2 separate regions of the Homo sapiens genome follow, and region 2 is linked to region 1. The links come from fine-mapping of genetic effects on gene expression. Tissue or cell type: whole blood. Region 1 holds a variant in brackets; the other region holds the start of a gene. All regions are shown on one strand. Distances are between the middles of the regions.

The links. PIP is the estimated chance that this variant, and not a neighbour inherited with it, causes the effect.
Region 2: it holds the start of BSCL2, and the variant in region 1 is fine-mapped to the expression of BSCL2 in whole blood (TOPMed, PIP above 0.99).

Annotation. Positions count from the first base shown.
Region 1 is chr11:62,486,215-62,488,972 of GRCh38, forward strand. It overlaps a transcript of AHNAK not described here. Among named protein-coding and RNA genes, the nearest start is that of AHNAK, 59 kb to the right of the region's middle. The variant G/A (reference allele first, on the strand shown) is at 1,608.
Region 2 is chr11:62,706,159-62,708,787 of GRCh38, forward strand. It overlaps BSCL2 (BSCL2 lipid droplet biogenesis associated, seipin), which reads right to left and starts at 1,266. Exons shown (of 11, transcript NM_001122955.4): 1 at 951-1,266. The coding sequence starts at 1,037. It overlaps GNG3 (G protein subunit gamma 3), which reads left to right and starts at 1,518. Exons shown (of 3, transcript NM_012202.5): 1 at 1,518-1,757; 2 at 2,137-2,236; 3 at 2,520-2,629. The coding sequence starts at 2,138. HNRNPUL2-BSCL2 (HNRNPUL2-BSCL2 readthrough (NMD candidate)) reads right to left here. Exons shown (of 24, transcript NR_037946.1): 14 at 951-1,166. RefSeq lists a silencer at 1-309 and enhancers at 1-650, 1,970-2,629.

The DNA of each region.
Region 1 (2,758 bases):
CTGTAATCCCAGCACTTTGGGAGGCCGAGGTGGGTGGATCACCTGCGGTCAGGAGTTCGAGACCAGCCTGACCAACATGGAGAAACCCCATCTCTACTAAAAATACAAAATTAGCAGGCGGGGTAGCACATGCCTGTAATCCCAGCTACTTGGGAGGCTGAGGCAGGAGAATCGCTTGAACCCAGGAGGCGGACGTTGCGGTGAGCCAAGATTGTGCCATTTTACTCCAGCCTGGGCAACAAGAGCTAAACTCCGAAACTCTGTCTCAAAAAAAAGAAAGAAAAGAAGAAAGGAAGGAAGGAAGAAAGGAAAGAAGGAAGGAAGGAAGGGAGGGAGGGAGGGAGGGAGGGAGCATGGTGGTTGCCGGGGGCTGGAGAATTAGTGTTGAATGGCTACAGCGTTTCAATTGGGGAAGATGAGAAAGTTCTGGAGCTGCACAGTGGAGATGGTTCCACCGTAATGTAGATGTACTGTATACCACTGAGCTGTACACCTAAAAATGGTTAAAATGGTCAATTTTATGTTATGTCTATTTTACCACCAGTTTTTTTTTTTCTTTACATAGATGGAGAACTCACAGATTGGCCCACTGGCAAGGGTCCTATGAGGTTTTAGAGGTTTATAAACACAAGCTCAAATGAAAAATTACCCTAGAGTTTTCCCATGGTTAGCTGTGAGTACAGGAATATCTGCCCCCATCCCACCAAGAGGGCTTCAGAATAGAGAGAGAGGGTTCACTGAGTAAGGAGCGGCAGACTCCAAATAGACGCCTATTCCAGACCAGAGAACATCGTGAAAGAGGAGAGGACTGGAATAAGATGGTCAGAGAAGCAAAATGAGCTAAGGGGTTTGAAACAACAGAACAGAAACATTGTGGACCACCAGTGGTGCGGGACGTCTGGTGACAGCTTAGGTGACCAGTCCAGTGTGAAGCTGATAAAGGGGTATAATTACAACAGCTAACGTTTATTAAGCACTTACTGTATGTCAGGCACCACTATAAACGCTGCCCAGGCAATAGTTCGCTTTATCTTCACAACCACCATCTAAGGGATGTTATCATCCTGATCTCACAGATGAAAGAAAAACTGGAACATGCCCCAACGTAGAGTAGCAAAGACAGGATTTGAACCCAGGCAGTCCAGTTTCTGAGCAGAGCTCCTAACCATGAGGGTATGTGGCGTAAGGCAGGACAGTATGACATCCAACACAATGAGTTTATAGGTTTCTGTTTGTAGCTTCAACTCTCCAGCACCTCACCCCTCAAAACCGCCTTCAACATTTAGGACACAGCGTAAGTGTCTTTTTTTTTTGAGACGGAGTCTCGCACTGTCGCCGGTGGCGCAGTCTCGGCTCACTGCAACCTCCCCCTCCCGGGTTCAAGCGATTCACCTGCCTCAACCTCCCATGATGTCTTGATTCAAAAGCTCTGCTGCTCTCAACTGCACAGACTTGTCTTCAAGTCCAGCAATACTTCTCTGATTTTCCACTTATTTACCAAAATGACCCTGTATGCAGCTGACTGAAGTGTTACCGTGAGAAAACCATGTAATGTTCAAACGGGTTTTTTGATATTAAAAGAAACAGCAGTACCCCCTTGAGAAGTC[G/A]ACTTAGAGAAAGCTGGAGGCTCACGGCGGGGACAGGAAAGGCTTGTTTCTCACATGCCCGTGAAGTGATGTTTACACAAGACTCCAGCTTCAAAGCCCATGAAAGTGGGGGACACGCAAGTTGGTTTCTAAGGAAACATCCATGATCAGGGGAAAGAGGCGTCTCTGGCAAGGAGAACTATAATCTTTCTCCTGTACTTTAAACCAAGGCATGAGAAGATGAAAAGCCACGGAAGTTCCTCTAAGCTCCACAGACTTTCTCTGAATCCCTGTGACTGGCTGCTTTAATTCTGCCACCTTCCGTGCCTGGCTCTGCAAAGGTGCTCAGTAAATAAACGTTCATTGAATGAACAGACATTATGCACCCAGTGTACAAGTCCTTTGAGAAAAGGGGTCAAATCCCAATTCCCTTGAAATCCCGAGACATTTAATTTAATCAATGTTGAAGTAAAGTGTACAACAAAAAGTGCTGCATTTGGCAACACAAACACTAGAACCCAGTCCCCAAAGAGCAATAGAGAAATGGCCACCATGTAAGCACTGGGAAGCCAGCCAGCGGAGCTTGCCATCATCTGTCTAGCTTTTTTTTTTTTTTCCAAGACGGAGTTTCGCTCCTGTTGCCCAGGCTGGAGTGCAATGGCGCGATCCCAGTTCACTGCAGCCTCCGCCCCCTGGGTTCAAGCAATTCTCCTGCCTCAGCCTCCTGATTAGCTGGGATTACAGGCGCCCACCATGCCCAGCTAATTTTTTTTTTTTTTTTTTGTATTTTCAGTAGAGACAGGATTTTGCTGTGTTGGCCAGGCTGCTCTCAACCTCCTGGCCTCAGGTGATCCACCCACCTCGGCCTCCCAAAGTGCTGGGATTACAGGTATGAGCCACAGTGCCCAGCCCATCTGTCTAGTTTATATTCCATGCAGACTGTGCTGTAGATCCTCCTGGGCCCTACTGAGTGTGAAGTCTAGTGGAGGCCCAGCACCAGGGGAGCCAAAACAGGGATGCCTGGGCAGCATGGGAGAGCACAGAGAAGGGGCCCTGAGCCCAGACTTGGAGGCTCAGGTGGGCCTGGAGTGGTGGTTCAAAGGCCCAGGAAGACAGGGGGCAGAGGGGTTTGGAAGAGCACAATAAAGACACAGGAGCGGCCCAGCGCGGTG
Region 2 (2,629 bases), 220 kb after region 1:
GTCCCCTCCAGCTCGGGGGTGGGCAAAGCGCCCGGAGCCCCTACCTAATCGTGCAACCATGGAAACCAGCCCGCCGGCTGCCACAGGGCTGCCGACTCACCAGCCTCGCGCGCTGCCAGGGCAACCGTGAGACGGGACTTCCGGCTCCCGGGGAAGTCCCGCCCCTCTCCGCCGGCCGCTTTTGTAGCCGTGGGAGGCGGGGCTTCAGCCCAGGGCGGGGTCCAGCACGGCGGGGCGGGGCGGGACGGGGCGGAGCCTTCCCGAGCTGCGAGGTCGCTGTCTCCTTGCGCTCGCCACTGGCTCTCTCTGCGGCAGGTTTCCCTCCGGTTACCGTGACCAAAGGGGAAAGACGCCTGCCTCCCTGCAGGCCCCAAGATGTGCCCCAGGGGATGCGCTGACTGCAGCCTCCGCTCGGCTCTCCCTTGAGACTGCAATCACAGCCCTCCGTGCACACCTTCACCACAGGCCATTTCACCCGCGAAGCGGCCGAGTGAGGCGGTCATCCAGCTGGCGCTGATTTTTATCGCCCACAGCTCCTAGGACCTGTAGGCATCTAAGGCGGGGGCATTCGCCTAGAGCATGTTGCAGTTTGCGGCAACCTGGGCCTCTTGCGTTGTTGCGCAGGCAGATTAGTGCCCTGTTCCCAGCGTGGTAGCATTGTGGACCTCCTCTGACCCTAACTGGATACACTCTCCCTCAGAGTCCCCACAGCACATTATCTAGACTAGCTTTTGGCAGTCTTCTATTTTGTAGACGTCTAATCACCCCAGATAAAGTCCTTCAGAGGCAAGGCCAGTGTTGTGTACATCTTTGCACACTGCTGCGGGCGTGGGAAGTAATCTATTCAAAATGAATGAAATTCTTAAAACCAATCCATCCCCCCGCCCCCTTCACGCCAGCCCACCTATTTCCAGTATATTTCTGCTGACTGTCCCCACAAGGGCCCCTACCTCCTCTTTGTCCGGTCCTTTGATCTGGTCTCCGCACACCTCTTTTTCCCCAGCTTCCTCCTTTTGGTCTACCTTTTCTGTAGACATCTTCCTGACGAGCCTCTGTTGACTCTGGATCTTCCACTGAGTCACTTGTGGCTAAAACGTGAAGTGGCGATCCAGACGCTGATACCTGTGGCGCATCACATTTTCCTGGATATGGAAAATGGAGGGTCCCTGGGAGAGAAACGAAGATTCAGGTGCTAAGTGCTGTGTCAGAGTAGAGGGAGGAAAGGAGGAGGGGGGCGACTGCCCAGCTGATGTCAGATTTTCAAATGAGCAGGGTCCCCCGCAGCCAGTACAGACTCCACTGCAGGGGCCGTCATAGGCCCAGACCACGCCATTTGAGAGGGGGAGTCGGCCTTGGCCTCAGCTCTGTTGGGGAGGTCTCTAGCCCAGAGTCAGGATGCCTGCAATGGGGGAGGGGCAGGCAGTGAACTAGCGACAGTGGGGGTGTGCGCAGGGATGCAGGCAGCTAGGCTCCCCCACTGGCCAGGCAGTTGGTATGCTCCAGGATCTGAGCAGCTCCTTCTAGCATCCTTCATCCTTCAGGTACCAGCCATCCAGACAGTGCTTGAGCTGCAGAAACTGAGACCAGACCTCTGGCCTGGCCCTCCCCAGGGGCCTCCTTTCGTATAGTCACTGCTTCTGCATCAGATACTTTCAGCTGCAACTCCCTACTGGGTGGGGCACCCATTTCAGGCAGAAGGTTTTGGTACCCTCCACTGACCCTACACCCAGGGCTGCTACTGCCGCTTGTGGCTTCAGGTAAGTAATGGCCTGTTTTTCTCCTGTTGGGGCTCACTGGAGCAGACAGGGGTGATGTGCCCTCCTCATCAGGGTTGGTTGAGGTCTTCAGAGCTGGGAACACACATGGTTTGAAGGGCTGAAAAGCCTTAAATCATTTGTGTAAGGTTTAATGATCTGTGGCCCAGGCCATGAGGGAGTTTGGGGAGCACCTCATCCCACCCTATTTTTTTCCATGAGGAATACAGGGATGAGACAGTCCACTGGAGGAGGAGGAGGAGGATAGGAGGGGAACAAAATATTGGGGTATGACCACAGCCTTGTAAAGGTTGGTGTGGAGTGAGCATGGAGGGGGGCCTCCAGCTGAGACTGTGCTCTGAGAGGTCCCTCTTTTTTCCAGGATGAAAGGTGAGACCCCGGTGAACAGCACTATGAGTATTGGGCAAGCACGCAAGATGGTGGAACAGCTTAAGATTGAAGCCAGCTTGTGTCGGATAAAGGTAGGTGGGACCCTGGCTGGCTCCCATTAGTTGGCCAGGCTGTGCTGTGCTGCAGGTTCCCAAAGCTCAAGATAAGAGATGCGTTCTTTCCTTCACTCCCTGAGGTCAGGGGAGGAGTCTGGGGCTCTGTAGAGAGAGCTGTCCCCAGGCCTCTGGGGGGGATGAGGGAGAAGACAAGTCGTAAGGAGCCCTGGAGATGGCAAAAGAGAACCCATTTGGGGAGGGAGGCTGCAGTCCCCTTCAGAGGTCCTGGCTAACAATACCCTTCCTGGCTGTGTCCCAGGTGTCCAAGGCAGCAGCAGACCTGATGACTTACTGTGATGCCCACGCCTGTGAGGATCCCCTCATCACCCCTGTGCCCACTTCGGAGAACCCCTTCCGGGAGAAGAAGTT